4 separate regions of the Homo sapiens genome follow, and all the other regions are linked to region 3. Evidence: fine-mapped expression QTL. A gene starts in region 3. Each other region holds a variant in brackets. All regions are shown on one strand. Distances are between the middles of the regions. Region 1 overlaps KIF6 (kinesin family member 6). Region 2 overlaps DAAM2 (dishevelled associated activator of morphogenesis 2). Region 3 holds the start of DAAM2 (dishevelled associated activator of morphogenesis 2). Region 4 holds the start of LOC124901487 (a long non-coding RNA gene).

Region 1 (7,479 bases), 86 kb before region 3:
TCAGGGTCCCGTTTTTCATCTAAAATGGGAATAATAATATCTATCAACCCATAGGGTCATTATAAAAATTAGGTGAGATAATATACGTGAAACTGCTCTTATATTGGCAAAGCTTTATATAAAATAATATATATTCTTAGTGTTATCAATTAATAAGTAAATTTGTTCCTATTATTTAGCAAGAATTACACTAAAAATTCTGACCAGAAACACATGGCCTAGTATAAAAGTAAGGCTCAAATTCACTGACAATGATAGAAACTCTGCTAAAAGTGCTCTGCTCCAAGTAAAGGAACTTTTAAATGAAGATATTTAGATCTGCAAGTGATAAAGCACGAGATAAATTTACTGCTGTATATTCTCCAACCATTCTAACAACATATTTTCAGTATGATTTTGCTTTTGCCAGTCAATTATAAAGTCAAATAACTATAGTAAAAATCTTGCCAGTTGTAATCAATCACTACACATTTGTATAGGAAGGATTTTCCAGAACACCTTGCTTCCTACTTGTGTTCTTTCTATATCTCTCTTTTGGAGGCTATCAAGGTGAGAAATAATAACTAGAAATATCTTTGGTTTATTTGTAAGTGTATCCTCAAGTCCTGAATTGAAGATCTGATATAAAATTGCAAACTTTTTGGTGCCTCGGGAGAAACCAAATCTAAAAAGAGTTAAGGGGGAAAAAAATCATACAGAAAAACATTCATAACTTGGTAAAATTCTGAATTGGGATGAAAATCCTTTTCTATAAAAATGTCAGTGGGGAGCCAAAAATGGATGATAGCTAATACTCATTGAGCATGCACTATGTACTTACTGAGCAATCACATATACTGGGGCATGTGATTTTCACGTACAGCTCATTGGATTGTCATGGCAAATGAGGTAGATATTACAGTATCATTTTCCCCACTTAAAGATAAAAAGCTGGTTCAGGCCAGGCGCGTTGGCTCATGCCTGTAATCCCAGCACTTTGGGAGGCCAAAGCAGGTGGATCACCTGAGGTCAGGAGTTCAAGACTAGCTTGGCCAACATGGTAAAACCCTGTCTCTACTAAAAATACAAAATTAGCAGGGTGGGGTGGCACATGCCTGTAATCCCAGCTACTTGGGAGACTGAGGCAGGAGAACTGCTTGAAGCTGGGTGGCAGAGGTTGCAGTGAGCCAAGATCGTGCCACCGCACTCCAGCCTGGGTGACAGAGAGAAACTCCGTCTTTAAAAAAAAAAAAGCAAAGCTAGAACAGAGAAAGATGAAATAACTTGCCCAAGGACATAGAGCTAATAAGTATTAAAGTTGGGATCTGAACTGCACTTATATGGCTCCAAAGTCCCTGCTCTTAGTCAATGTGTTATATGGTCTCCCCCAATTATATCTTTAGAGAAAATGTTCAGCTTTCTGAAAATAATCTGTTAAGCACCTAACTTAGTCTAAATAGTTTCAGATTTCTCTTAACTTGTAACGTTCCTGTGAATGTTAACTATAGTGCTTTAAATCAAGAGTGGGTCCCTTCTGAGCATGGGGCCCTGTGTTATGACATAGGTCTCATGTATATGAAGCCGGTTCTGGCTTTAGGATAAGGTGCTTTAATTTATTTTAGAAATAAGTGGGAGGTAAATTATAAACAAACAAATACCAATTTCGGAATTGTAAAGTCGTTTAGAGCACATCTTGGATCTCTGAGGAAGATACTAACAACAAATACCACTGGTATCATCTGTCCCTATCTGCATCACCCCACAGCCTAGCTGTAGGCCTAGGTGAGTGAATCTCAAACCTTAGTGTGCATCAGAATCACCTGGAGGGCTTGTTAAACTACAGATAGTTCTGATTCAATAGGTCTGGGTGAGGCCTGAGAATGTGCATTTCTAACAAGTGCCCAGGTAACATTGATGCTGCTGGGTTACGGACCACACTTTGAGAACCACTGGCCTAGACAAAAGAGCAGGTGTCTATATAGCGTGATTTTAGTCATTGAAAAGATCTCTGTCCAAAAAGTACTTCAGGAAGGAAACAGAAATAAAACTCACTTTATAAGAAATAAAGCCCATCACTGTGCATTTAAGCAATAAAGGGAAGGCTGACAGGTGCTAAAGGATCATCCTCTATCTGCCAATTCTCTTCCTCAACAAATACTCAGAGTATCTAATAGACACCTGACACTATTCTAGGAGCCAGGAACACTACAGTGAACAAAGGTAAAGAGGAGACCTTGCCTCCATGAAGTTTAATTCACACACAGGTGAGGCTCAAAGTGCCATGATGTGAACACCCCAGAAGCAGCCTTCAACCAATAATGGGCAGGAGTGGTCAAGTACCCTGGCTTCTTTGCCCCTTGGGTGGGACAACTCTGAGACATGTTCCTAACAGTTCCCCAGTGGGTACCAGTAGAAATAAGTCCCAGTTGCTTACAGTGGTAACCTGCTCCTTAAAGGACCCTACCTTCCTTTCCTTCGCTTTCTCACTTCCCTACTGCACTCCTGGTGCTTCCTGAACTCACCTCCCAAACAAATTACTTTCCCTGGAATCCTAGCCTCAGGATCTGCTTCTGGTGGCACCAGCTTAAGAGATGTCTCTTCATGCTGCAGAATCAGTGCATCTCCGATCCACTGGTTCGTCTCTTTTATTATCTTAGGAAACCCCCAACTAACTTTTTAATCCAAGTAACGCTTTTTATTTTACCGCTGACCCAGTAATTTTCACCCCTTGCATATACAATATTCTGTCAAGGAATCCTACTTCTTACAATCAAATAGCTTCATGCAACTCTTATGCTTTTTTTTCTGTAGGTATTTTATCAAAAATTATGAATAACTTGTAGTTATTATTGCAAAAATGATAGTATGCAATTTCTTGATCAATTATTCTTAAGAAGAGAAACCGAGATTTAGGCTCACTTTTTACCTACAGTAATAAAATCTGTGTTTGAAATGTGCATCTTTAATACATTCTATACTGGTTACATCAACTGCTGTTGTTTTATTCACATTCAACAGCTGTAGGTAGAATGGGAATATTATCCCCTTCCTTGTTAAGTCCTTGATGGAGCTTGTCAAGGTCATCATCTTGTATAATTACATGGCTTTAAGCTGATATGTTAGTGTCCCTGTTTTTAATCATAAGACCATGTTCTCAGTTGAAAATGTAATTTTAAAATTGTCACACTTAAAAGTTTAGATTTAAGTATAATTGTAAAGTCACAAAAGCCAGAAATGTGATGTCATCAGGAAATTCAGCATAGCAGCAAGTAAAGCCAAGTGCAGGTACATGTTTATAAACAACGCATCTGGCAAAGTGCAACTGTGGCCAGAAGTTGAACAGATTTAGGGAACAGGCAATGAGTTTTTGTACAATTCAGTGGTGAATAACGTTTCCTGTAAACTTGGAAAAAAAACAAAATGTCACTGGTGTTTTTGTGAATTTCAGATGGGATTAGCTTTATTGAATCCCCTGGGGGAGAAGTTCCAGTGCAATAACTGAGATTGCCTAATTTACAGAATAGAAGAATATCACAGAACAAATGTCACTAAAATTTTTATAACTGAGGATTTTCTTACTGCTTTATTTTGAAATAATGATAAATTTACAGGAAGTCATAAAGAGAGTATAGAATAGTTCTCTGGACCCCATTTGCCCCAGTGGTTACATATTGCATAACTGTAGTACATTTTCAAAACCAGGAAATTGACATTGGTAGAATGTATGTGTATAGTTCTATGCC[G/A]TTTTCTCACATGTGTAGAATTAAGCAATCACCACTGCCATCAAAATACAGAACTATTCTATCACTATAGAAATCTACTGGTGTTAACATTTTACCAGTTTGAATGAAGTGTAGAAACCTTACTTCCCTTAGGGCCCCCTTCTCTTTAAAACACATAGGGGTGGAGTCACGGGTTTTTCCATGGTATCTGGACGGAGTAAGGCAACTAGTATCTACAAGTTTTCTGTCTTGCTAGGCTGCCAGTCCCCTGGCCCTCTTGCTAGAGACAGTAGACTCTTCTTGAGGATTTTGTCTGAGCCCACTGGTGTTTCTGGGTGTCTGGTTTCTCCAGCATCCAATCTGGGCAGGGTGGTTAAGTGTCCCCGCTCTGTGCAGATATATGAGGGGAAAAATCCAAGGGGATTCACCATTCTGTCACTTCTCAGGTCCTGAGGTCTCTAGCTAGGCTATCTTCTCTTCAACTTTCAGAGTCATGTTTCTTTGTATATGACGTCCAGAGTCTTTAGCTGTACTTAGTAAGGGGAATAGAGAGAAGTGTGTCTACTCTATCTTGGTCTGGAACCAGAGGTCACTAAGCATGTTTTTTGAGTGGCAAAGAAATTAAAGATTTCTAATTTTTTCATCCCTTACATTGAATAGGGCACTGACGCTTGTAAAGCACATTGTTTCTTTTCATCTTTAAAACAACCTTGTAAACTTGGTGTTATTAGCATCCCCTTTCTCAGAAGGGATAACTGATTCAGAAGTGATATGTCTGATTCAGAGTCACATAGGGAGTTAGTCACAGGGCTAGGGCCAGAATTGGATTATTTGACTTGATGCCAAATATTTTGAGCCAGAAAAGGTAAAACCATGAGTACACAGAAGTGAATAACTAAGATTTTTTTAATCCTCTTTTGTGAGCCTTTTTCTCCCTATTCTGTCCTCCTTGTCTTGAAAGAGCAGGATCTCTTCTCTGGTTGGATTAGCAGAACTGGGTGTGCTAGGCAACCCACGGCATTATCAGCAAAGCCTGTTTCCTAAAGAGCAACAGGCAAAAGTCCTGCTGGGCAATGACCTTGGCACAACTGAGAGTGTGGTACTGCCCCCTGCCATGAGAAAATCCCCTGCATCAAGCCTTGGCCTCCCACCCAGCAAGAGCTCATGTGCAAAAGTTGTCAAGCACATCCTTCTCCAAACCTGAGAGGGTAGCGTCCCTTTACAGTAAGAAGAGAGTGAAGGAAAAGAGAAATCTTCTTACTATAAATTGAAAGGCTGCTCCTGATAATGTTCATCACTGGTGAAATCAAAGGTTAACCAGTGGTGGCTCATAATGACTAATAGCTTTCCAAAAGCCAACCTCATTGGCCTTATTGTAGTGTAGGTGCCTTAGCTGTTCAGCACCAGCTACTGGGACTGTGTCATAGCATAGCCAGTCCTCCTGCCAGTGCACATTCTATTCATTTTGGTCAAACCATCATGCTCTTACAAAACATTGAATTTCCAAATTTTTGCAAAATTACTCACTGCACATAAAGTAAATTTCCTACACCCCAAGCTTTTAGGTAAAACATAGATTGGCTCTATTAGAAAACTGGAATTCTGCAAACTTGCAGATGTGTGCTAAGACCTCACAAATGTCTAGACTTCATAGTTTTCCTCCCTAAGTCTTTGAATGAAATGGGCACTCAAGGATAATGTACTATTTTTGCTTGAAGCTTCAGGTATTCTCTGATAGCCTACCACATATTCCAGAGATTGATGCACTTCAGTTTGAGAAGCACAACACTAGATAAAAAAAAAAAAACAAATAAAACAAGACGCTCTTTTGTATACTGCAATACCATAGACATTTGTAGACTTCTTAAATCTTACCTTTATAAAAAAATTCATCCAGAAATTAATGAGCAAAATTCAGATGACAAAAGGCAGTTTTGACAATGTTACTAATCAACCCAAATAGATTTCAAAGACACCTGAGATTAGAAGAGGCATCATGATGAAGCACTTCCTAGTGGAAATGTACTAAATAATAAATAACCACAAAGATTATTTTACTTTATTTCCAATAATACAAAGTTCAAGCTTTACTATTTCTCCCCATACATGCAGTCCTATACAGCTTTGGTCCCTGCCATTTTTGGCACCAGGGACTGGTTTTGTGGAAGACAATTTTTCCACCAAATAATTGTGTGTTGTCGGAGGGATGGTTTTGGGATGAAACTGTTCCGCCCCAGATCATCAGGCATTAGTTAGATTCTCATAAGGAGTGTGTAACCTAGATTGCTCGCATGCACAGTTCACAATAGGGTTTGTGCTCCTATGAGGATCTAATGCCGCAGCTGATCTGACAGGAGGTGGAGCTCAGGCAGTAATGCTCCCTCCACCAGCACTCACCTCCTACTGTGTGGCCCAGTTCCTAACAGGCCACAGACTGGTACCGGTGCATGGCCTGGGGCTTTGGGGACCCCTGCTACATAGTCATGCACATAATATCACTGGTTTGGACGAAGTAGAAAAGATGTCTAAATTGGTGAGATTCCTGAATTACAGAATTTTGGACAGAAATGTGATTAGTTTTATTTAGCCTTAATTGCATACAGTAACCAGAATTAAGTTACCATGTGTTAACCCAGTAGAATAACTTTAAAGGGCTAGTTTAAAGTGGTCAGATTTTATGTTGGGAATGTGTTCTTGAAGGCTAATCTTCACTAGGAATAGCGGACATTTCTGTTTAATATCTGAAGTGGTATAGTGTCTATTCAAAGGCCTGCCAAATTATGTAATTCTTAAAAATTTGATTTTCAATGTATGGGGATACATTACTTTAAATATTGTGCATAAATGACACTTTATTTTATCAGTATTTTATGTTTTACCATTTCAAAGTCATACAATTTGCATAAAATATAAACATCCTGTATACAGCATATTTAAAGTCAATGAAAAAAGTGATTCCCTCCCCAGGCTCTTAAATAAGTCAATTTGCTTAACAACACTCTCCTACAGAGATGAATGAGAAGAAAATGTGAATCTGCCCCCAACTGTCTATTCACTGGTGCAGTACATGTTTCTGCAGAGGAGAAGCTTGGATTAGGGACAGTAAGATACTCCTAGCACCCTGGAGGAAAGAGGGCCTCACGCCTAGCAAATAAACACACCATGCCCTCAGCACATGCCATCCCTTCCCCATAGACACATGGGTAGGCCACAGTGAACAGAAACAGCATGCTCAAACAGACAAACGCATTCTCAAATGACAGGGATAAGCCCACCTCTAAGAATCACCAGTATCTGAGGGAAATCTGCACCAGGAAAGCGAGGCACCAAACTCATCAGAAGAACATGCACATAAAGAAAAAGAAGACAGAAAAAAAAAAAAACCCAGTGTTTCAAAAGATCATTATCTTCAGAGGGAAAGGGAGGATACCACATTCACAAGCAAGAATAGACTTTTTCATTTCCTAGAAATGAAAAATAATAGCAAAAATTAAAAAATTTAGAGGGATAAAGAAGAATTCACCACTGAAAAGCAAATTACCATGCTGGAAGTCTGTGCTGACAAATTCTTGCAGAACTCAGAACCACAGGGCAAAGAGAGGAGAACTATGAATGGGAAGTTGTAATATTTGAAGGATAGGACTGCAAGGTCCAGAAATAAAGAATAGATATGTTAGAGGTAAGAAAATTATTTAGGAGGCCGAGGTGGGAGGATCGCCTGAGCCCAGGAGTTTGAGACCAGTCTGAGACCCCATCTCTATAAAAAATTCAAAAAATT
Region 2 (7,479 bases), 35 kb after region 3:
CCATCTCTGGCCCTGTAACCTGAACCTGCCCCAGGCCCTGTGCTCCAGGATCAAGTGTCCCTGTTTGTTTTGACATCCCCTGTGGGGCGTTAGAGATCCAGATTTCAAAGCAAGATTTTTTTCTAGCAGCGGTTGAAGGCCAGGCCCCTGCCAGCTCCTGGGCTCCCATGTTAGCATTTTCAGTTAATTAAGAAAACAAACCCCACATCCTTGACAGAGGTGGTTCTGCCAATTCAGGACAGAGAACTTTGCATCAGCATAGCATGCAGGAGAAGCTGGCCAGCTCCTGCAGGCAGGACAAGCTGAGGGAGGCAGATGTTTGAGCTGGAGAGGACCCACTGGTGCCTTCTCGGCAAGAGCAGGTTCCGCGGAAGTCGCATGGTTGGGAAGCCAGCTCCAGGCAAGGTCCAGAGCATGGAATTTCTGTTCCTCTTTCCCCATCCAGGGTGCATTTATCATGGGTGAGGGCCATGGGGAAAGGCCAGCTGGATGAGAATAGCAGGGGGAGACACAAATACTTTCTTGGGACTTGCCAGTCTTCCTCTCCAGAGCCAGGTTATCCCAACTGTCTAACTCCTGGAGGAGAATGATGAGAGGTGACCTGGGGTGGCTTCAGAGGGGCCCAGGTAGCTGACCTGCCAGCTGCCAAGAAGGAGCCTGATCAGAGAGGCTGCTTAGCCATGCAGGGCCTGGATGTGAATTTAAGAAGGGTCTTTGTCAGGCTGGGTGCGGTGGCTCACGCCTGTAATCTCAGCACTTTGGGAGGCCAAGGCAGGAAGATCACCTGAGGTCAGGAGTCTGAAACCAGCCTGGCGGACATGGGGAAACGCTCTCTCTACTAAAAATACAAAAATTAGCCAGGCATGGTGGTGTGCGCCTGTAGTTTCAGCTACTCAGGAGGCTGAGGCAGGATAATGCTTGAACCCGGGAGGTGGAGGTTGCAGCGAACTGAGATTGCGCCACTGCACTCCAGCTGGGTGACAGAGCAAGACTGTTTAAAACAAAACAAAACAAAACAAAACAAAACAAAACAAAACAAAACACAAGGTCGGGGGGTTGGTGGGGGGCCTTTGTTTCTTGAAGGAAACATAGTTAAGCATACTCCTGTAAAGTAGCCCAGCTCTGCCAGTGTGTGTGTGTTGGGGGGCACTTTCCTGAGCCTGGCTGTGCATTCACTCACAGAATCACCCTGTCACCTGATCACACACCCTCTCCATCGTACCAGGGATAAGATATGTCCTTCCCCTGCTCCCACCGTGGCTGTGATTGGGCAGGTGGGAATGGGGGGAGTCAAGGGAGCATAGGTGGGACTGGCTTTCTGCACCCCGATATCTGTACTGAGTGTACTGAGTGTACTCTTTCCCAGGTGTACAAGCCCTGCAGGCAGGGTGGGCTCATGTATCTCCTTGGATGTGGGATTCTCTTGCAGTTCACAGCCTGCACACTACATGCAGTGGTCCTTGTACCTCTTGGGTAGAATGGAATTGGAGGGAGACCCAGTCCTGCTCTATCATTGCTAAATGGCCCAGCACACATTATTTGGGCTTTGTGAATCTCTTAATTTCTAATGGGAAATGGGAATGAGGTTCACATTTTATGTGTCCCCATGGTGCAGGTGTGTTGGCAAATATGAGATAAGGCGTATTTCATGCCTAGTGCAGTGAACCTGGCCTCCTTCCCCATTGGACATGTGTCTTGGTCCAGCTTCTGCCTGCTGGCTTGGGATGTGGCTGCCTTAAAAGATAGTGGGGAGAAATGATAAACACACGGCTGGCATCTTCTCAGCTTAGGAGAAGAGCCCTGGGGAAGAAGCGATTGTGCGGCCTGCTCCTGGTCTCTGGTATAACTAGTTCAAATAACTGCCAGTTAGTAGCAGATTTTTTTTTTATTTTACTTTCGAGGGTCTTCTCCTTACCTGCTGGAACTCTCTGGGCTCCCTGCCATGAGTACTTTGTCATTCACAGCACAATCCCAAAGTGAGGGGCTGGGGCTATTCTAGGAAAGCAAGTCTCTTAAAAGGTGAGCATCCCTGTGGTGTCCTAAAGCTGGGGAGAAGCCACTTAGGGTTTTGGGGGACTCTCGACTCCTTCTCTTTCTCTCTTTTTCATTTCCAGTGGAATCCTCAGGTGATCGGTTGTGTAGCTGATATGCCCAATAGCTCCCCTTTCCTGGAGAACATATCCAATTTGCCTCACGATCCTCCTGAAATTCTTGAATCCCTGGACACCAGGCTAGTTTGTTTGCTTTTCTCCTTTTGCCAGTGATTTTTTTCACTTCATATTAGGACTGTTTGCACACAAAAATTAAGAAAAATGTACATAAAAAATCAGATGTGAAATGTGAAAAAGCATACTAATGGTAGGCAAATAATAATAATTAGTATGCATAGTCACAGGTTTCTGTAACTTCAACTTGGCAAATCCAAATGTCTTGGAATGACTGTCAGGAGCACCTTCTCTTTTTAAAGAGAAGTTTCTAAGTACCCTTCAAGCTTCAAAGAGAAAATCTGAGGTGAGGAAATCAGGAGAAGTTGGGAATCAGTTTCCTGGAGTATTTGAGAATATTTAAAGAGAGAGGCGGTGTAGCTTGGATCCTAGCAGGGCTCACAATATTTAGGGGAAATATTCATGAATGAATCTTGGCTAAGATTTTTGGAATTTTTAATTTTTGTTTTTATATTGCATTTTTGTAGTTGTTGTTTCCACTTAAGTAGAAACTCAGGAGAAACCAGGAAGCAAAGCAGAATTTGTCTGCGACTGTTCTGTAGTGGGAGAGAAGAGTTCTGTGCTGTGAATTCGAAAATTGGGTTCTAGACATGGCTGTGGCATGAGTTTGCTGTGGGTCCTGAGGCAAGTAGCCTGCTTCTTGGGCCTCAGTTTCTCGCCTGTAAAGCGGTCTTTAAATGGTAGTACCTTCATTCTCAACGTCTTGTGCATGCCAGCAGCTGTATGAGGGGCGTCCTGCAGATCATGTCGGAGAAAGGAGGAGTTGAGTCCATTTGCACACAGGTGGGGAGTGTGACATCTCAAGAGGGGAAGGCACAGCTATCCAGGAGCTGAAGTGGGGCGGGGGTAGTCTTTTTCAGAGTCTGATTATTGGGTCTGGGTTTGTGGAATGGTGCTTCACCACCCCAGGGAATGGTGGCCCTCACTCACGCCTTGGCTCTGTGTGTGTGGGCTCATGGAGGTGCCCCCGGGCCTGGTAGGATGCAGGGGCCTGGGCTTCAGAAACAGTGGCTGGAGGATTCTCCCTGACTCTTTTCCTTGGGGTCCTCATGCCTGGATTACTCTTCAGGGTCTCTGTCTTTGTGTGAAGTGTGATACCCCTTGACCCCCTTGGTCTGAGAATGAACTCTCTTAATGGACCAAAGGGGAATCTGGAAAATC[A/G]CAAACCCAGTTTCAGAATTCAAGGGGTATAGTCCCTTCATGTCTGAGCCCTGGAGTACTTCTTGGGTCATCTTGCCAGCTGCCCAAGCTCTGCCTGCCCTGCCGCTCACACTTCTAACTCCTGCCCTCCCTGCTACCTGAAGGCTCATACCTGGGGAACGCCTCGCTGTCCTTGGAGACTCAGCCCAAAAATCACCACACCTACAAAGTCTCTCTAACGCCTCCTCCTCCCCACCAATTTCAGGTAGTAGGGTTCCCTCTCACCTGTGCTCCCACAGGCCTGTCCCTGATGAAGCACTGAGCACAATGTTTGAAAACCACTGTTCTGTCTGACTCTCGCTAGACTATTAGCTTCCAGAATGCAAAGCCCTGACTGGTTCAGTTTTGCATTTCTAGTATGTCTTAGTCCATTTGTGCCAATATTCCACACACTGGGTAATTTATAAACCAAAACAACATTTCTCATGGTTCTGGACTTTGGGAAGTGCAAGATCAAGGTGCCAGCAGAGTTGTTGTCTGGTGAGGGCTGCCCTCTGCTCCTAAGGTGGTGTTTTGTTGCTTCTTAATGAAAAACTGTAAAGAGCATAGGTACTCCTTGCATTTTTGCTATTCATTCATGCAGCCAATATTTAATAAGGACCTACTATGCATTAGCCCTTGCCAGTGGAACTATGCTATAGTTTGCATGTCTGTGTTCCTTTCCTTCCTCTGGAGGGGAAGAACACTGTGTCCTTACATGACAGAAGGAATGGAAGGGCTAAAAGGGCCTAAGCTAATTCCCTCCACCCCCCTCCGTCTTTTTTTTTTTGAGACGGATTCTTGCTCTGTCGCCAGGCTGGAGTGCAATGGTGCGATCTCAGCTCACTGCAGCCTCTGCCTCCCGGGTTCAAGTGATTCTCCTTCCTCAGCCTCCCGGGTAGCTGGGACTACAGGTGCGTGCCACCATGCCCGGCTAATTTTTGTATTTTTGGTAGAGACGGGGTTTCACCATGTTGGCCTGGATGGTGTTGATCTCCTGACCTTGTGATCTGCCCGCCTCTGCCTCCCGCCTTTTTATAATGCACTAATCCATTCATGAAGGTAGAGCCATCATGACTTAATCACTTCCCAAAAGGCCCCACCCTTAGTATTATTGCAACAAAGATTAAGTTTCAACATATGCATTTTGGAGGGAACACAGACATGCAAACCATAGCACAGTTCCACTAGCAGGGGCTAACGCATAGTAGGTCCTTATTAAATATTGGCTGCATGAATGAATAGCAGAGATGCAAGGAGAATTTATGCTCTCTACAGTTTTTCTTTAAGAAAGAAGCAAGAATGGTTACTGTTTGGATAATTCACCCAGGGACCAGCTTCACGGGATGCTGTTTAAACAGATAAATCCAATTGGCATCTCTTCTTTGTATACTTTTGTTGATGGCAGGGGCCTGGGGAGCGGGCTGTGTGTTCCACACAGGGTGTGTGGATGGGCCTGCACATGCGCCTATGACTGGTTGTGGGTAGCAAGCACAGAATGATCCTGTTTTTCTGTAAATACTGAGCCACAAACATTGGCAGTGACTTTCTGGCCATTATCCTCAGTGGTGTGTGATTCTTGCGGCTTTTCCCAGGGTGTACCAAAGGAGTGTGACTGTGGTGACCATCGATGGGGAGGCTGGCAGCACTCAGGGTGATGGACAGAACCCCATGGTTGGTTCCCTCTTAAGAGGCTTGTGTTGGAGGCTGAGTGATACCTCATTTGGCACCAGTTGGAGAGTTTATAGCCTGTGAGGGTTCTTACACTTACCAAGAGGAAATTGGGCAATAGAAATTTATGTTAATGTCTGTGGGATAACAAAAAAGCAACATGTCCCTGGGTCAGTAGTGATCTTACCTTCAGGGGTTTGTTTATTCATTGGCACACTCAGACATTTCTACTCAGTGCCTGCCATATATGCCTGTCCTCATTCTAGGGATGCAGACTGAACCTGGTCCCTGCCCTCAGAGGGCTTAGTTTCTGGTAAAAGTGCTTGAAGATTGGGAGGATGGGAGTTGAAGCTGGCACCCTCCCCAGAGCCGTTCTGAGCCGGCCCCTTGGTGGGAAATATCATTTCTCCATTTATTAGCTCCTCTGTTCTCCCCCAAGTTGTTGCTGGCCAGAAGCACCTTGGTACCACCCTTCTAGATTTCTCATGCTCCCTCCTTCCCCACGCTGAGTTAGAGACCCTTCATCCATACTCTCATCATTCCCTGTACAGCTCCACCAAGATACTTCTGCCCACTACCCCGGCCTGCTCACATTTGTACCCCCTTTCCGACTGGGAGATTTTTACAATCAGGTCTGTGTTTTATTCACTGCCGCATCCTACAGTGCACAGTGTCTGGCCCAGAGTGGGGGTTCATAGATGGTTGTGGAGTGGATGCCCATGGGGCAATGCTGGACTGCATTTATTTCATCTTCAGCATTCACACTGAAGCCTGTGTCTATCTATTTTCATCTTTTTCTGGGTCCGTCATGGAGAGGCATGACTCTCAGAGAAGTTGCTGAAAAGCTGGGGCATTGCGAGAAATTGGAGAAATCTGGGAAGCCACAGGCTGGAGTCGCTGGGGTCCGGTGAGTCCTCTGTGACTGTCATTCCACGCACTCCCTCCCAGGGAGGGAGGCAGGTGGGCTTCAGGGCTGACAGAGTGGGGCTCTGAGTCCAGACTGTGCTTGTGCTGAGGCCTGCGTCTTCTTCATCGTGAGTGGGGACAAGTGATGCTGACAGACAGACCTACCCCTGTGGCCCTCCGGCTCAGGCAGTGCAGCTGGGCCAGCAGGAGAGAGGGCCGCCTGGGAATAGCTGGGAAGCAAGTCCAGGCCTTGGGCCCACCTCCCCCAAGGCCAGGATGTGGCGTGGGACCCAGGCCTGCGGAGGTTCCCACCACTCTGCTCCTGCACTCCCAAATGCTCCAGGCCCAGGCAGCAGGAGGGGGTGGCGAGGGGCTCCAGCTGCCTGGGTCAAGACTGCATCAGGACCAGGGCAGCTCTGCAGGCACACACCTCTGACATTTAGCCTCCACCTGGATAGCTGCCAGTGGCCCTGCAGTCCGGACCAGCTTTGCATGGGGGAGGAGAGTCAGGGATTAACCATTTCAGGCCCTTCCTCCATCAGGCAGAAACTGGTCCTCTCAGGTCGACCATGTACCAAGGACCGGAGTGGGCATATTTACAAATGTTGCCTCATTTAATCTTCACATCAACGTGAGGGTGTGGGCATCATCTCCATTTCTCAGATGAGTAAACTAAGGCATGTGGGGAGTTATGTAACTTGCCTAAGTCTACACAGTTAGTAAGTTTCATATATTCCTTCTTTATTACAAGGGCCTATTATGTACCAGGTAGTAATTCTAGTCACTGCGGATACAGCAATGAATGATAGACAAAAATGCCCCATGGAATATACATTCTTGTGGGAGGGATAATGAATACATGGGATGTATAGTCTGTCAGGTGGTGGTAAGTCTACGTGGAAAATGAAGGGAAGGGAGATGGGAGGTGCTGGGAGCGGGGCTGCTATTTCAGATGCCCTTGAAAGACCTCACTGAGAGGGTGTGAGTTATTCACACTTAGTGCTGAATAGGTGCCTGGTGCTACCCTAATCACTGTACCTGACTCACTAAATTAATCCCCACAATTAATCCCCACAATCTTTGAGGCAGATTACTATTATTATTCTCATTTTCACATGGGGAAACTGAGGCACAGGGAGGTTAAGTAACTTGCCAAAGATGACACAGCAGATAAGAAGCAGCTCTAGGATTTGCACCCAGGAAGTCTAACTCCTGAGTTCTGGCTCTTAACCTCTGTGTGGCCTCTGCCAGGGCCACAAAGACAGTAAATGGGTGGGAAGGTCAAGAGGCTTGTAAGACCCCACCTGAACAGTCCAGGTCTGTGGCCTGGGGGGTAGGCACGCTGAGGGACAGGTGCACTAGGGGGCAGGTGCACTGTGGGGACAGGAGCACTGGGGAGGCAGGTGTACTGAGGGGGCAGGTGCACTGGGGGGGGGCAGGTGCAGTGCAGGGACCAGAGCACTGGGGGGTAGGTGCACTGGGGAGGCAGGTGTACCGA
Region 3 (7,479 bases):
TGATTAGATGACATATTCATGGGGCCTTCATTTATTCTTCAGAAAGTCTTTATGGAGTGCTATTGTGGTCCATGCTGTACTAGACTAGGATCTCTACCCCTGGAGAGTGAGCAAGTGACTTTTGTGAAGCCTGCTTCTTATCATGATAGGCTGGGCCTTGGAAGTATATAGTGAGCTTTGGAAGCCAGGTCAACCATAATGTGCTATTTGAGAATCTTTCATCAAGCAGGTACAATTTTCCAGATGAGTAGTGTGCTACAGAGGGCCTCACTGTATGTTCCGGGAACATTCCTAGAATATGCAGGTGAAGAAGGATGAAACCCCTTTCTTGGGAATCTTGAGAATAGGAGAGACTCCCACATTAGGACCCTGTGAGTGATAGGGCTGGGGGTAGGGAGTGAATCAGATGATCTTCGAGTGGGCCCTACTACTTCATGGACTCTTCAGGGCTTGCCAACCTCAAAAACAGCTCCTCAGCACTGACAGCCACGTATTTTATGAATTTCACTTGCTCCTCATCCCAATAGAACCCAATTAAGAATGCTTGGGGGCCAGGCGCAATGGCTCACACCTGTAATCCCAGCGCTTCGGCCTCTCGAGTTGAGAGAATTGCTTGAGACCAGGAATTTGAGATTAGCTTGGGAAACATAGCAAGACCACATCGCTACAAAAAAAAAAAAAAAAAAAAAAAAAAAAAAGGTTAGCAGGGCCTAGTGGCATGCACCTGTAGTCCCAGCTACTGGGAAGGCTGAGGTGGGAAAATCCCTTGAGCCCAGGAGTTCGAAGCTGTAGTGAGCTATCATCGTGCCACTGCACTCCAGCCTAGGTGACAGAGAGAGACCCTGCCTCCAAAACACTTGGGCAAGGATGGAGAGACTCCCCTCTCCCAGACCTAGAATGCTTGCTCCTCAGCCTCACTTCCCCTGTTTCTGTCCTCATGATGTCCCCAACCTGCCACCTCTGAGTCTCTGGCCCTATCTTTTTTTGTGTTTTTATTTATTTATTTATTTATTTATTTATTTATTTATTTATTTATTTTTTTGAGACGGAGTCTCGCTCTGTCGCCCAGGCTGGAGTGCAGTGGCGCAATCTCGGCTCACTGCAAGCTCCGCCTCCTAGGTTCACGCCATTCTCCTGCCTCAGCCTCCGAAGTAGCTGGGACTACAGGCGCCCACCACCACGCCTGGCTAATTTTTTGTATTTTTTAGTGGAGACGGGGTTTAACCGTGTTAGCCAGGATGGTCTCGATCTCCTGACCTCGTGGTCCGCCCGCCTCGGTCTCCCAAAGTGCTGGGAATACAGGCGTGAGCCACCGCGCCTGGCCAAATCTGATCTTCTCTTAAAGAGAGTTTGTGGAAGGCATCCTCTGTCTTCTGTATTACAATCTCACTGGTCAGAACTTGGTCTCATAGCAATTGTGAGCTACCAGGGAGTCTGGGATGGTGAATATTGTAGATTTCTAACTTCTTTAGTTGAGAAAGGCAAGGGAGAATGGGTTTGTCAATGGCTTCTGGAAACCTATTTGCAGGGTCTGCTGAAGAACAGAGCTCACCTTGCCAGTGGAGCCTTGATATGAGAGAGGGAATGGAAGGAGGTAAAAGTGGGGTATTATGCCAGGGAGAGCAATCCCACAGTGACCAAACAGCAGCTCCCTGCTGCAGGGCCCTCGGTGGCTTGGGTCAAAACAGCGTGGCCTCTACCGAGAGGCCCAGCCCTAAGACAGCTCCTTCTGGCAATCAGCTCTAACCAGCTGCTGCCAAAGAGGTAAACACATTCCAAGTCCTTGAGTCCCTGCTGCACTGTAACTGTGGTTAAAACACAACCCCGCCTCTACCAGTTTGGGCTAATGGAAAGTTCACTATAGTTGTGTTTTAATGATGATTTGCAATTATCCGTGCCCCCTCCCATTCATGGTGAGATGAATACCTAAACACTTATGTTGTCTAACCATATAAGTATTTTGCATCTCACGTGTATCATTTTAAGTTCATTTCATTCTCCAATCCTTGGGAACCATGAAGGATAACACATTACATTCTCTTTTTTTTTTTTTTTTCCTCTGGAAGATCATGCATTACATTCTCTTTTTTTCTCTGGAAGGGTGGCCCTTAAACCAAGCCATTTCCCTAAGCCCCTTTGGTGAGGTGGAGAAACAGACAACCACTAACACAGAACAACCACTGAACACCCAGAAAACTGTATACAGGTCATCACCCAGTGGGGGCACCATTTGCTTGCAGAGGGAGCTGGGGAAAATAGGAAACAGAGAAGATCAAATACTCCCCGTGAGGGTGTTGCCAATCCCAGAGAGGACAATTGCTCTTGACCAAAGCAATCTCTAGTTCAGTCAAGGAGACAGACCACAATCACATTTAAAAAAAAAAGAAAAAAAAAAACTAAAAGGAAATTTTAAAAGTATGAATAAGAGCTATTGTAAACTGCTCAAACTATGCATACAAGCAATGAAGTAAGATGAATTGACTGGCACTGAATTGGAAAAGCTATACAGAGGCAGGGAGTGTGGAACATAATTTAATAAAAATAAACTTAAAAAAATATATATACACTCCCAAAAAAGAAATGGAAAAGTTGTTAGGGCGTGGACCAGGACTCCTAATTAGCTGTTCTGTTGTGCCTGATTTCGCTCCTGTCTTGCCCAGCACCCCTTGGGACACACTGTCCAGTGCAGGGACACTTTGGGGAGGGACAGGGGATTCCTTGGCACCGGGACCTTCACCTCCGAGCCGGCCTCAGACCAGGCCATTTGCCCGTAGCCCAGAGGAGGAGCCGGGGAGAAACCCGCTGCCCAGGTGGCCACTTTTGCCTCTTTGACCCTTCCATGTTTCCAAAACAGAAGGGGCCCTGAGAACGCTCCCTGCCAAAGTGGGGAACAGCTACCCTCATTGTACGCCTCGCCCTGCCGGTGGCGCTCTCCCCCCGCCTGCGTTCGGTCTGAAAGTGTGAAAATTACAAATCCCAAGAAACTGCAATCAGAAGTCTACCTAGGGAAAATTCAGAGTAACCTTGCCATAAATATCCCGCTCCAAGACGCCTGACGTCAGAGCGGGGCGGGCGGACGGGCGCGAGGCCGGGCCTGGAGGGGCGGCAGCCGCGGCTTCCCGGGGATAGCGCGGAGCACGCAGCAGCGAGCGGAGCGCGGGCGGCGGCGCCGTACCTCGGGCTGCGGGAGCGCGGGCGCCCTGGGGTCCTCGGAGTAAGTGCGGCCGGCCCTGGCGCTCCCCGTCTTGGGGCCCGGGCCGCGGGGAGCCCTCTCCGCTGGGCTCCCACACTTCTCTCCCTCTGCTTTCTTTAGCATGCCCCGCGGGGCTTGGGGAGGCAGCAGCTCCGCAGGCTGGCGGTTTTGTTTCTCCAAAGTGTTTGCAGGAGCCGCCGACCCCGGAGTGGGCTCCCAGGGCCTGTGTGTGTGTGAGTTGTGTGTGTGTATGAGTGTGATTGCGTGTGTCTGTACTGGCACATCTGGACATAGGAAATGTCTTTGGAAAACTTTTTAAAAATGTTTTTTGCGGCTTTGAAACCTGACCCCTGGTTGTCACAAGTGGACAAACACAGAAGATACCCCGCAAAACTGACAACTTTTTGGTGGTGGCTTTTCCGGGTTCGGCTTGAACCTTCACTTGGCTGGGCTGAAGTCTTCACAAGCCCCCAGCTCCCACTTGCAGGCCTGGCCTCTGGCCAGTGGGCAGGGCAGCCGTAAGGTTCTTGTTCTCAGTGGCAGTGGGACCCTGGGCGGGGGAAGGAGCATCTCAGGAAAGGGGTCCCCGGACTCTGGGGCTCTCAGCACCTGCGGTCGCAAACCAACCTCATGCCCTGACTTTACCAGGCGTCGGGACTCTGACTTAACCGGGGAATGAGGGACTTGGTCTGGCGGCAGGTAATTTTGTGAAGAGGATGAGAAGGAAGAGGGGGAGGTGGTGGTGATGGCCAGGACGCTGTGGCCCTGTGTCCAGCCGTAGCTTGGGAGTGGGATGGTTGGTTCTGCCACATGGCCACGGTGAGGTACGTGCCAGGTTCTCCAGGAGTGCCGCGTGTGGTGCCCCAAACAAGATGCAAGCTCCTAACATAAAGAGACGTGTCTGAGCTGTGGGGTGGAGGAAGGGGGGCGGTGGGGGAGAGGGAGATTTTTATCAAAATTGAACACAGATTGCTGAGATCTGGGCTTGATTTAACTCTTCTCTCTCTGCCTCGGCCACTTCTCCACAGTTTTGGAGTGGATTTGGAACGTTTCTCGGAGGGTTAGAGGAAAATCACACCTCTCCGGAAAAGAGTCCCCATAGGTTTTCCCTTGATGCCCACGTGGGAATGAAAGCAGCTTCCCATCTTTAAAAAGTTCAAAGTCTTGTGTTTTCCCCCTTCTGAGTTTGGTGTTAGTTTCCTGAGTTTCTTTGCAAAGCCAGCTGAAGCGGGGGATGGATTTTCCCTAGGGCCTAGGGCGGAAAGTGTGCTCCACGGAGAGTAGGGGAAAAAAGCAGCAGTGAGGCTGTATCGATCCATCATCCCTGAGTAGCACAGTGCCAGGCACTGCCTGTCAATAGCTGGGTTCCACAAACGAGTGACCACAGACAGACTGAATTTTCAGCTTTGAGCTAGCCAGGTCTCTGGTTTTGTATTTTGCAGTAGAGCCAACCTACAATGTCTGGGTGGGAGGAAGATTACTGGACTCTCCCTCTGTCCTAGAAAAATGAGAAAATGAAGGGACAGGGAGGAAATCTGGATGTAAAAACAGACCCACAGGAAGTTAAGATTCAGGAAGGATTTTAGAAATTATATAAATTGAACCCCAGGGAAGCTCCATAAAAGATGGAGCAGGCAGCAATGTCAGAAACAGACTCATTTAACTTCAGGAGTACGTTGTCAACTGAAGTGTAATGAAGGAGGAGGAAATCATCCCATAGGCAATGTAAACAAGGGTGCATGTAAACAGGAGTGACTGGTCCCCATGAGATGCACATGCCTATGTGTTTTTACACATACATGACTGTGTGGTGATGGCCATGGCCTTAGACATGGGAGGATAAATGGTCTATTTCTTCATCTGTGCTGGGAACTCCATCTAACCCCCATTTCTTCCTTTATGCAAACAACTGTGCTATTATTGTCTTGCTCCCTGGTAGTTGCAAACTCTGGCTCCTAACTCCCAGCTGAGTTTTCAGAGCTTTTCCTCCAGCGCCTCGGATGCTGAGGGAATACTCGTGCCCCCATCAGGACAAAAAGAGGAGAGAACATTCTCCTGGGCATTAGAACTTAGAGAGTCAGGGGCTCAAGAAGGCGGAGGCTGTGCAGGCAAGACCAATAGGAAGGCCTGTAAATGATTTTGTTTTTGGTGAGCGTGGAGGAAGTTGAAATACTACTGCTTGCTGTGAGAACATGTTCTCTCCCCAGTCTTCTTTCCCGACTGTCTCCAAAGTTTTTGATGCAAAACAGATTAAACTCCCCATTACTAAAGAGCCTTGGATCCAGGTGTAAAGAATGAAGATAAAGGGTAAGTACAGGCAGTAGAGAAAGCATAGAGATAATGAAAGATGAGGCTTTCTTATTTGATTTTACTAGAGCCAATGGAAGTAACAAGTTTAAATGTTCTCATTCATTTCCATTATTTAAACATAGAAGACTACCCAGGGACAGAAGGGACCCCTCGGAACAGGATTCCCAGAAATACTCTTATCCCAGCATACAACTCCTCAGGGACAGGTGAGGGGCAAGAACTGGGTTTTCAACTCTTTCTACATGTGGGGTTTCTGGGAGTGCTGCATGTGGGATCAGTGGAGTCCTGATGCTTCTGGGCTTGTACTAGGAGACATTTCACTATGGCCGGGATGAATTCCCAGGCCATGGATGCCTAGGCTGACATTGAAGCCTTCTCATGGCTCATTCTATCAGTTCAATCTTCTGGCCAGCTCTTTGGTCATCTTTGAGATTAGATTAAGTAGATGGGATGCATTCCAAGACATCCTTGAAGGTCCAGAGGGCAAACACAGCTGGCAGAAAGAACAAGTTGAAGGATATCCTTGGCTTTGATAGCGGATGACCCTCTAGATCTCAACAGCCAGAGACTCTGTCAAGGATCCTGTGTCATTCAGCCCTAGACTTCAGAGGCAGCCCGACAACAATGGAAAGAGTGCAGATTTCTGATCAGCTGCCTGGAGAGAGAGAACTGTGACCTAAATACGAATTAGTAACCTGGGCTACATGACTTATTCCTTCTGAGCTTCAGCTTCCTCATCTGTAAAATAAGGATAGTATTTCCCTCCCCAGGTCATTATGAAAACATTTATGCACAAGAACTAAGAACAGAGCTCAGAATGTTATAAGACCCTTCATAAAGGGAGTGCTGTATTTTTATTTTTCAGTTTTTCAGCCATCACAAGCCAGTATTGCTTGGAAAGAACCTCTCCCCAAATCTAGCTACATATTTTCCATGATTGAAGGCTAGTGGGTGGAGTTTCTAGGGCTCTGATCATCCTTACTTCCTTCCTCTAGAAAAGGTGACCAATGAAGATATTCCATGAGCATCCCTGGTCCATTATCCTGAAGTGTGGGAGAAGAAACCAGGGATCCTGGATGTCTGGCCTAGAAATCACTCTTGTGTTTGTGCTCTTTAGGGAGGGAGAAGGACAGAAGAGCAGGTTGTATAAGTATGGTGGGGAGGGGAAAGGTAGGGAGGTGGGGGTAGGGCAGGAGGGTCAAGGACCAATTGGATCTTGAAGGACAAGCCTGAGTCAGAGAGCGGGTAGGCAGCCACTCCTTGTCAAGGGTGCTCAGGTCAGAGTAATGGGGGAATCTGATGGGTTGTAAAGAATGAAAGCTTTAGTCATTGCAAACATCTCCAGTGGGTATGGGGTGGGAGGCTGCCCCCTGAACCCTGATTGATACATTATCCAAGGGAGTGACTACTCCAAAGGAACAAAGGAACATCTGATGTTAGAGAGCAGCTGCAGGTCCTCTTGGCCCATCTCAAAGCTTGTAAGTTATCCTTCAAGTTGACATTTAAGATTTTGAAGATCACATTTGTTTTTGTTTTGTTCAAGCTCTCTCTTTAACCATGGCCTGGGATGACTTTTAAGCTTTTAAGAGGCTCAACCAGTGGTCAACTTCTCTTGAGATGGCCCAGAGCGGGGGTCAGTGAATTCCTCACTCTTGGCAGCATCTATTTCTCCAACTCTCTCCACATTTTTTGGTTTGTTTTTTGTTTCATTATGAGGTTCTAAAACTGCACAGTCAAGATGCTGTGGGGGGAGGAAGTAAGTGCCTGTTCTTGGAACCTGTGCAGCGTTATGCTAGCACTGGCCAAGACTTATCAGACTATGGTTATTAATAGGTGTTATGGGTTTCTTTCTGGGGTCCCCCTCCAAAAAAAAAAAAAAAAAAAAAACCTGTAAAAAAAAAATGAACTTTAGGCAGTTTGATGTCTCTTTCAATCCTGGCCAAAGAGGAGCTGAATTATTTGTGGTACATCCTATG
Region 4 (7,479 bases), 27 kb after region 3:
GAGAAGAGTAGCAATGAAGATTTATTTTTCCTACTGACATGAACTGTGCTACCTCTCAGGATGCTTTAGTGATAGTTTTGGTTTTTCTCTATAGGTATATGAATCACACGTTGTATTTTTTCTAGTAAATACTTGAGAAAGAATTTGATCCAGGAGTCTGGGGCAGAGCCCAAGGCTGCGCATTTCTAACATGTTCACAGGTAATGCTGATACTGCTTATCTGAGGTCCCACAGTTTGACTGCAATGTATTTATTTTTGCAATGGGGCATATTGCTCTATAAATGTTCTCCTGCTCTTGTTCTAAACCTTCACACCCTCATAACTAGGGATTTGATCACAGCCACAGGTTCTCAATCTTGATACTAGGCCACATAATTCTTGGTTGTGGGGGGGCTATCTTTTGTATATAGGAGGCTTATTAACACCCCGAGCCTCTACTCAGTAGATCTCAGTAACATTTACTAGTTACGAGAACCACAAAACTTCTCCAGACATTGCCAAATGTCTCTGGGGGCAGGGGGTGTGATGGGTAGCCACCCCCAGTTTTGAGAGCTGCTGGTCTCAGCTAAATAGTTCCTGTAATAGTTCAAGTCCATTATATCTTATTCTACCCCACACTTTACCTCTGTATTTAAGTTCAGGGGCCTGGATTTATTCATTGAGAAGAAAGGTATGGAGGAGTCCCAGCAGCCTCTGGATCACCCTTGATTTCCAAGGAGAATCATCAACACTTTGTGACTGCTTTTTCTCAAAGGCTCCACACTTAACCCATCTGCAGTGGAGCCAAGGACATCCAGGTCTGTTTCCAGTACCGTCTCTAGTCCTGTTAACGCTCCCCGTGTGGCGGGAAACCTCACAGGAACTAGGGAATGGCCTTTGGTTTTTGGCTTATAAATACTCATCATCACATTTCTTTTGCTGAGAAGTTTTTCAAAATCGTGTTTAACATTCTTGTTGCCGTAGTGGAAACTTTTGTTCTTTGGAGGGCTTCCCATCCTAGGCCCAGGTCAGATTCCTCAGCAGAGCTCTGAACATTTTCTAGGGAAGTTTCAGCAGTGAGATCGCACCTTTGATGCACTTACACAACTGTGGCTGGATTCTGGGTTAAGACTCCCAGGATCCCAACATACACAACAGGGAAACTATGCAGCTGGAGGAAGGGCCATGTGCCTGGGAGTCTTTCTGGGAGGCCAGGATCAAAATCCTTTTATGATTCTATTACTTTTCTGGGTTTCTCTCCTTGCCCCCTAATGTCTTAAATCTAAGATAAACAATGAGCACTTCAGTCAGTAAAAGATTATGCGTAATAACACACAATCTCCAAATTTCAGTGACTGAAAACAACAAAGGTGTATTTCTTACTCATGTTATCTGTCGGTAGTGGATCAACAGAGGGTCTCTGCTTGTTTTAGTCCCTCAGGAACTGAGGCTGGCAGAACAGGCCCTGTCTTCAATGTTGGCAGTTGCTGTTCTAAAGGAAAAGGGAGTCTGGTCCTCACAATTAAAAGCTCTAGACCACTAATGATGCTTCTGTTCATCAGTGTTCTATAGTGAAACAGAACCAATAGGATCTCTCTCTACATATATCTGGATTTGTTTTAAGGAATGGGCTCCCATGGTTGTGGGACTGACAAGTCAAAAATCTGCAGGGTAGGCCAGCAGGCTGGAGACCCAGGAAAGAGCTGATGTTGCAGCTCAAGACTGAAGGCAGTCTAGGGGTAGAGTTCCCTTCATTGGGGGACCTCGGTCATTTTCTCTGAAGGCCTCCAACTGATCAAATGAGGCCTACCCACATTATGGAGGGTAATCTGCTTTACTCAGAGTCTACTGATTTAAGTGTTCATCTCATGTTAAAAAAAGAAAAAATTCTGGCTGGGCATGGTGGCTCACGCCTGTAATCCCAGCACTTTGGGAGGCCGAGGTGGGTGGATCACCTGAGGTCAGGAGTTTGAGACGAGTCTGGCCAGCATGGTGAATTCCCAGCTCTACTAAAAATACAAAAATTAGTCGGGCATGGTAGCACACGCCTGTAGTCCTAGCTATTTGGGAGGCTGAGGCAGGAGAATCGCTTGAAGCTGGGAGGTGGAGGCTGCAGCGAGCCGAGGTGGCGTCACTGCACTCCAGCCTGGGTGACAGAGTGAAACTGCATCTCAATTAAAAAAAAAAAAAAAAAAAAAAAACTTCACAGTAACCTTTATACTGGTATTTGACCAAATACCTGGTCCCATGGCCAACTTGACACATAAAATTAACCCTTCATATTTTCAGCGAATGGGCCAAAGTTAGCCACATGACTCCACCCAACACAAGGACCCAGGAAGTACCATCCTCTGTGTGTAATCGGGGGTGGGGACCAACAATATTTGACTAAGCACCAACAACTAGAACAACTATAAATTATTTTATCTGAGGATGAAAGAAAGTATTAATCTGTGGTATTTTGACGTTAATGCATTCTACTAACACAATGCAGAAATAGTGTTAGACTTAGCTCTACCTGCTCAATTCATTCGTAGCAGAGGTCATGGAAGAACATGGGTTGTAGCATGGCCTGGCCTCCAGGGTGACTAAATTTGAACACTGTTACTGAACATCGTCCTGTTATTCTTCTGTATTGTTTTCTTTATAACATGTTTTCTGTGTGTGATGTTGCATTTAAAGCCCATTTGTGTGCTGTGTAATTGAAGTATGCCTTGCAATTAATTTGGCCTTTGTGACCTCCTTTTAGTATAAATTCTTTAGGTTCCTTTTTCTTGCTTGGATCGGAATCATCTGAAAGGGCTCAGGAGCCAGCTGTCGCTCTGTGTTTTTTGCTACTGAGTCACTGTTTCTGACAAGCCTCTCCTGAGTGTGGGCCCTCATTTCCTTGTCTAGAGTGGGGTTGAGCAATGTGATTTCTAAGGTTCCTTCTGGCTCTGACATTCTGTGTGCCTTTGTTCCACACCCTTTTTCAGTGATGCCAGTGCCAGGGGGTACAGCCTCAGGGATGTATAACAGGGTTTTCCTCCACAAAACTGGCAGAATTGTTCTGGGTTCTTATTTGAAAATGTGGCATGTGGCCTCTCATCAGTGCTTTGGCCATTTTGCATGCACTAACTCACAGAGAATGCAGGCTACACCCCAGCTGGTGAGCATCACCATCATCTCTATGCCCACTGGCTTTCTGTTTGGCTGGAGGGAAGCTGAGGACAAGAGGATGTTAGGTTGGAGCACAGGGAGGCCTGTGGAAGGCAGGGACGGTGTAGAGTCTGGCCCAGCTGAAAATGGGCTTGGGGAGCCTGGCCAGTCCTTCAGGTCCATCTGGGCAAACCTAGTCTTCAAAGGGCAGAGTCACAAGGACCTCAAATGCTACTTACCTCCTCCAGTACTAACATTTGACACATCTAATGCCTATTCATTGTTGTGAAGTTCAAATGAGGTAACTCATGAGGAAGTGCCCACAAAACTAAACACTTATGACACACTCTCAAACACACTCTCAAACAATAAGAATTACTATCATGAGCTGCCTGACTCCACAAGATTTTAGTGCTAGGTGCTAGGGACAGAAAAGTGAAAAAAAGATGCTCAGTTAATTAGCATACAATGTGATGCTACCTCTAACAATAGACTTTGGATGATGTCTTAGTTCAAGCTGCTCTAACAAAATACCATAGATTGGGTGACTTACACAGCAAACGCTTATTTCTCACAGTTCTGGAGGCCGGAAAGTCAAGATCCAGGCACTGGCAGATTTGACGTCTGGTGGTTCAGCCTTCTCACTGTGTCCTCACATGGCAGATGGGATGAGACAGCTCTCTGGGGTCTCTTTTATAAGGGCATGAATCCCGTTCAGGGGAGCTCCACCCTCATGACCTAATCATATCCCGAAGGCCCCGCCTACACATAGCATCAGATAGGGAATTCTGCCTCAACCTATGAATTTTGAGAGGACACACACATTCAGTCCATAGCAA[C/T]GGGCAAAGCTTGTGAGAGCACAGAGGAAGGAGTTTTTAATGTTCAACACTCTGCTCGTGGGGGTGGAAGCCTCCATAGCAGCACTGACAGTTTAACCTGGTCTGGAAAGATGGCAAAGACTGCACAGGTGGAGGGAATGGGCATCCTAGCCTGAGTGAGTGGCAGCGTGCTGGAGAGGCTTATGGAAACCTCTGGTAATCTGGCCTGGTGGCTGGGTGGGGTGGGTGGGACCATGTGGGGGAAGCTGCGGAGGGAGCTGGTGATCAAATTAGGAAAGGTCTTGGATAATCTATGAGGAGCCTGGACTTCGCTGAATTTTTCAGTTACCAGGTTTTAAAAAACTTTTTATTTCAGTTTTTGGCTGAAAGAAGAAGCTATTATTTTAATTTTATTTAAAACCTGCCTGTGGATCTATAATAGGCAAAACTTAACTCAAATAGATTTAATCATAGCCTTGCTGCACTGTCCTGTTAATTTTGCTACTCTCCTTCCTCTTAGAGCTTCCACGTAGAATACATTTATCTTCTCGCTCTAGTCTCGTCTTGATTGAAATATTGGAGTGAGAGATAGAAGGTGGGATCTTTATTTTTTTTTCTCTGTATACAGAATAATGCCTATTTTAGAATGTGGAAAATACTAAAAACTATAAAGATGAAAAAAGAAATTTACCCTCTGGACAAGGTTGGTAGAAGATGAGTGGTTGAGCTCCAGTAGAATCAGTTTTGTTCAAATCCTAATTTTTTCACATATTACCTGTAAGACCTTGGCAATTTACTATCTCCAGGCCTCAGTTTCCTCATCTGTAAAATGGGAATAATAATCACAATACCTACCTCCTAAAGTTCCTATTGGGACTAAATCATTTTCTTCATGCAAAGCACTTAGGAAAGTGCTGTGTACATAGCAAATAATTAATATTTCTTATGGGTTATTGCAACACCCTCTGGGTGAGTTCAGCCCTAGAGGAAAGTAGGTGAGTTCCCTTGGGGAAGGGTCTTTCTGCCTCCATGTTCTACATCAGGAAAGTGGAGAAGCTTGTCATACCACAGGATGAGGCTAGTGCCGAGTCACAGACTGGTGTGTGTTCAGAGTTTTTCCCTGGAGGATGCTAGCTTATCCTCCCTTGCTCCTTCCTTTCTAGCATTTCCACCCACCTCGGGCTCTTGGGGCAGGCTGTCCCTTTAAGAAAGAGAGCCACACATTCTGCTCCTGACAGTGGCCCTGCCTCCCTTGCTAGATACCTTGCTGGGCTGTGGTTGGGACACTCCTGGGCTGGATTTTAGTACTGAAGCCTCCAGAGGAGGGGGCACTGCTTCAAATCAAGCACACCCCACCCCAGGAATCCATGCCCACAGAAGGACTCCCTGTCTGCAGCCCCCTGCTGTGGCCCTGGGCTCCCAGCACCCAGCTCTGGGACATCAGAAGATAATTCTTGAGGACTGAGCTCAGGATTCCTAAAAAGAAAGTTGGAAAATAGCTGGATAAACTTGGTAAGTGAAAGAAAGCCGCGTTACATCCTCTTCCTTGGATTGTGGATTGCAGATTTTGGGTTGAGTTCTGGTGACTCTTGCCAGTGGTATCTGATGGGCAAATGTGAGAAGGAGGAGACAGAGGTGGGGACTGGGATCCCCAGTGGGTAGCGAGTCTTGAACTTGGGGATAGCCCCCCACCTTATCCTGGTGGTTGTCAACCTTGAGGCAGGGAGCTGGGGGTTGACATCTGAACATAGCTGGAGCCTGGCCCAAGGAGTGAAGATCCGGGAGGGGCAGATGTCAGATTTCTCCCTCATTTGGGAAAAACAAAGTGTGGTCAGTGAGTGCTGTTTGTGAAGATGCCAGAGACCAGTGACATTTGCAGCCTGAGGGTGAAATGAGTGACCCTGTGAGTGTATCTCAGGAGGAGACTTGGACCAATTCCTCTTCTTCCTATAGGGTCAGGGGACAGACCAGGCCTGGGCCCCAAGAAATCTGCGTTGTCTCCTTGGATTGAGGCAGCTGCCCATGAGCAGCAGCGGACAGTGTCGTAGTGGGAGGAGGCAGGTCTGCCAAGGGCAGGGAAGAATGGAGGGCCTGTTACTGCTGAAGCCTGGGAACGCTGCCTGGGGGGAGGCCCACGCTCCCCAGAGCTGGAGTGAGAAGGAATGGGAGGAGAAGTCTATGCAGCAGGGGGATGGGCTCAGCCAGCATCCCCACCCTCTGCAGAGCAAATGCCCCCGTCCCATTTCCTGTGGCATGGACACAGGTGAGCTTCCTGGCCTTGAATGCTCAGGTACAGTTTGGAGGGCTGGGGTCTGTTACAAAGAGGTGGCCTCCCATGGAGGAAGCAGGAAATGCTAGAAGCCTCAGCCCCTGGCACTCACCCGAGGGTTTCCAAATCAGAGACACTTTCTGCTAAATTATGCTTCAACAGATGTTTTCTGTGTTCCTACTTGTGCCAGGCTTTGTGCTGGGGATTTACCAAAATATAATATGGCATGGTGGAATTGGGAAGGTGTGCAGAGCTGGAAAGATATTTTGGATGTGAGATTAAAGCCATTTTTGAAAAGTAACAATAATAGTTACCATTTATTCTGTACCTTGAATGCACCAATCACTCTGCTAAAGGCTTTGCATCTCCTTTAATTCTTGCAGTAGTTTATTGACTTGTGACTAATTTTGTAGATTTCAAAGATTAAGAAACTAAGGCTCAGAGATTAAGGACCTTTCCTTAAAGATGCAGGGCTGGTAAATGGCAAAGCCAGGATGAACCTCTTAAGTCGTCTAACCATTTATTCATTTGTGTGTTCAACAAAGTTGAATTGCTGGCCTACTGTGTGACAGCCATTGTAGAGGGCACTCAGGACACAGCTGGGACAGGGAAGGGTCCAGGGCAGCCTAACTCCATAGCCTGGGTCCTCACCCCCAGCCAGAGCCCTTCACACTGGGCCCCAGAGACCCCTGGGAACATTGTGTGATTGTTTTCTCCAAGGTCTGAGACTCTGCTTGAGAATGTGCTTTTCCTTGAGAAATGTTTCTTTGTTTTCATTTTAATAATAATACTGTAAAAATTGGAGGCATTTATTCTGAATCATCTGAATGACCACCATATAACCTACTATTGGCATGCGATTTTAGTCCCCAGGTTTGTGTTTCTGTGCAAGTTGGCACCGAGTGGTTTCCTAAAATGATAGTTTTTAACTTTCAATGCTTTGTTTCTCAAACTGGGCTCTACACTGTGTGCTTCAAAGGCCCAAAGATTAAGAAAGGCTACATCGACAGATTCTACTGCAGGAAGGGAGATGTGCAGTATGGGTGTCCCAAGAGGAAATGGTTCAACATCCTCCTCTCCTGGGGGGTGAAGAAAACTGAGGAGTTCAGGTTGGGGCAAAGCAGCTTGGGGGTTCTGAATCTTCCAACCTGCTGGTCTCCAAGCTCAGGATGGACCTAGGCCAGAGACTCAGAGAGGAACAGGCAAGTCAGGAAAAACGAAGACTCTTGAGTTCAGATTGGTGTGCTCTGCTCTGACATAGCATCTCTGACCTC

The links. PIP is the estimated chance that this variant, and not a neighbour inherited with it, causes the effect.
Region 1: its variant is fine-mapped to the expression of DAAM2 in whole blood (TOPMed, PIP above 0.99).
Region 2: its variant is fine-mapped to the expression of DAAM2 in whole blood (TOPMed, PIP above 0.99).
Region 4: its variant is fine-mapped to the expression of DAAM2 in whole blood (TOPMed, PIP above 0.99).

The regions. Positions count from the first base shown.
Region 1 is chr6:39,703,399-39,710,877 of GRCh38, forward strand. The region is part of intron 3 of KIF6 (kinesin family member 6); the gene reads right to left. Among named protein-coding and RNA genes, the nearest start is that of KIF6, 18 kb to the right of the region's middle. The variant G/A (reference allele first, on the strand shown) is at 3,723.
Region 2 is chr6:39,824,388-39,831,866 of GRCh38, forward strand. The region is part of intron 1 of DAAM2 (dishevelled associated activator of morphogenesis 2); the gene reads left to right. Among named protein-coding and RNA genes, the nearest start is that of DAAM2, 36 kb to the left of the region's middle. RefSeq lists an enhancer at 1-333. The variant A/G (reference allele first, on the strand shown) is at 3,387.
Region 3 is chr6:39,789,252-39,796,730 of GRCh38, forward strand. It overlaps DAAM2 (dishevelled associated activator of morphogenesis 2), which reads left to right and starts at 3,125. Exons shown (of 25, transcript NM_001201427.2): 1 at 3,125-3,214.
Region 4 is chr6:39,816,026-39,823,504 of GRCh38, forward strand. The region is part of intron 1 of DAAM2 (dishevelled associated activator of morphogenesis 2); the gene reads left to right. LOC124901487 (a long non-coding RNA gene) reads right to left here and starts at 3,786. Exons shown (of 2, transcript XR_007059917.1): 1 at 3,672-3,786. The variant C/T (reference allele first, on the strand shown) is at 3,958.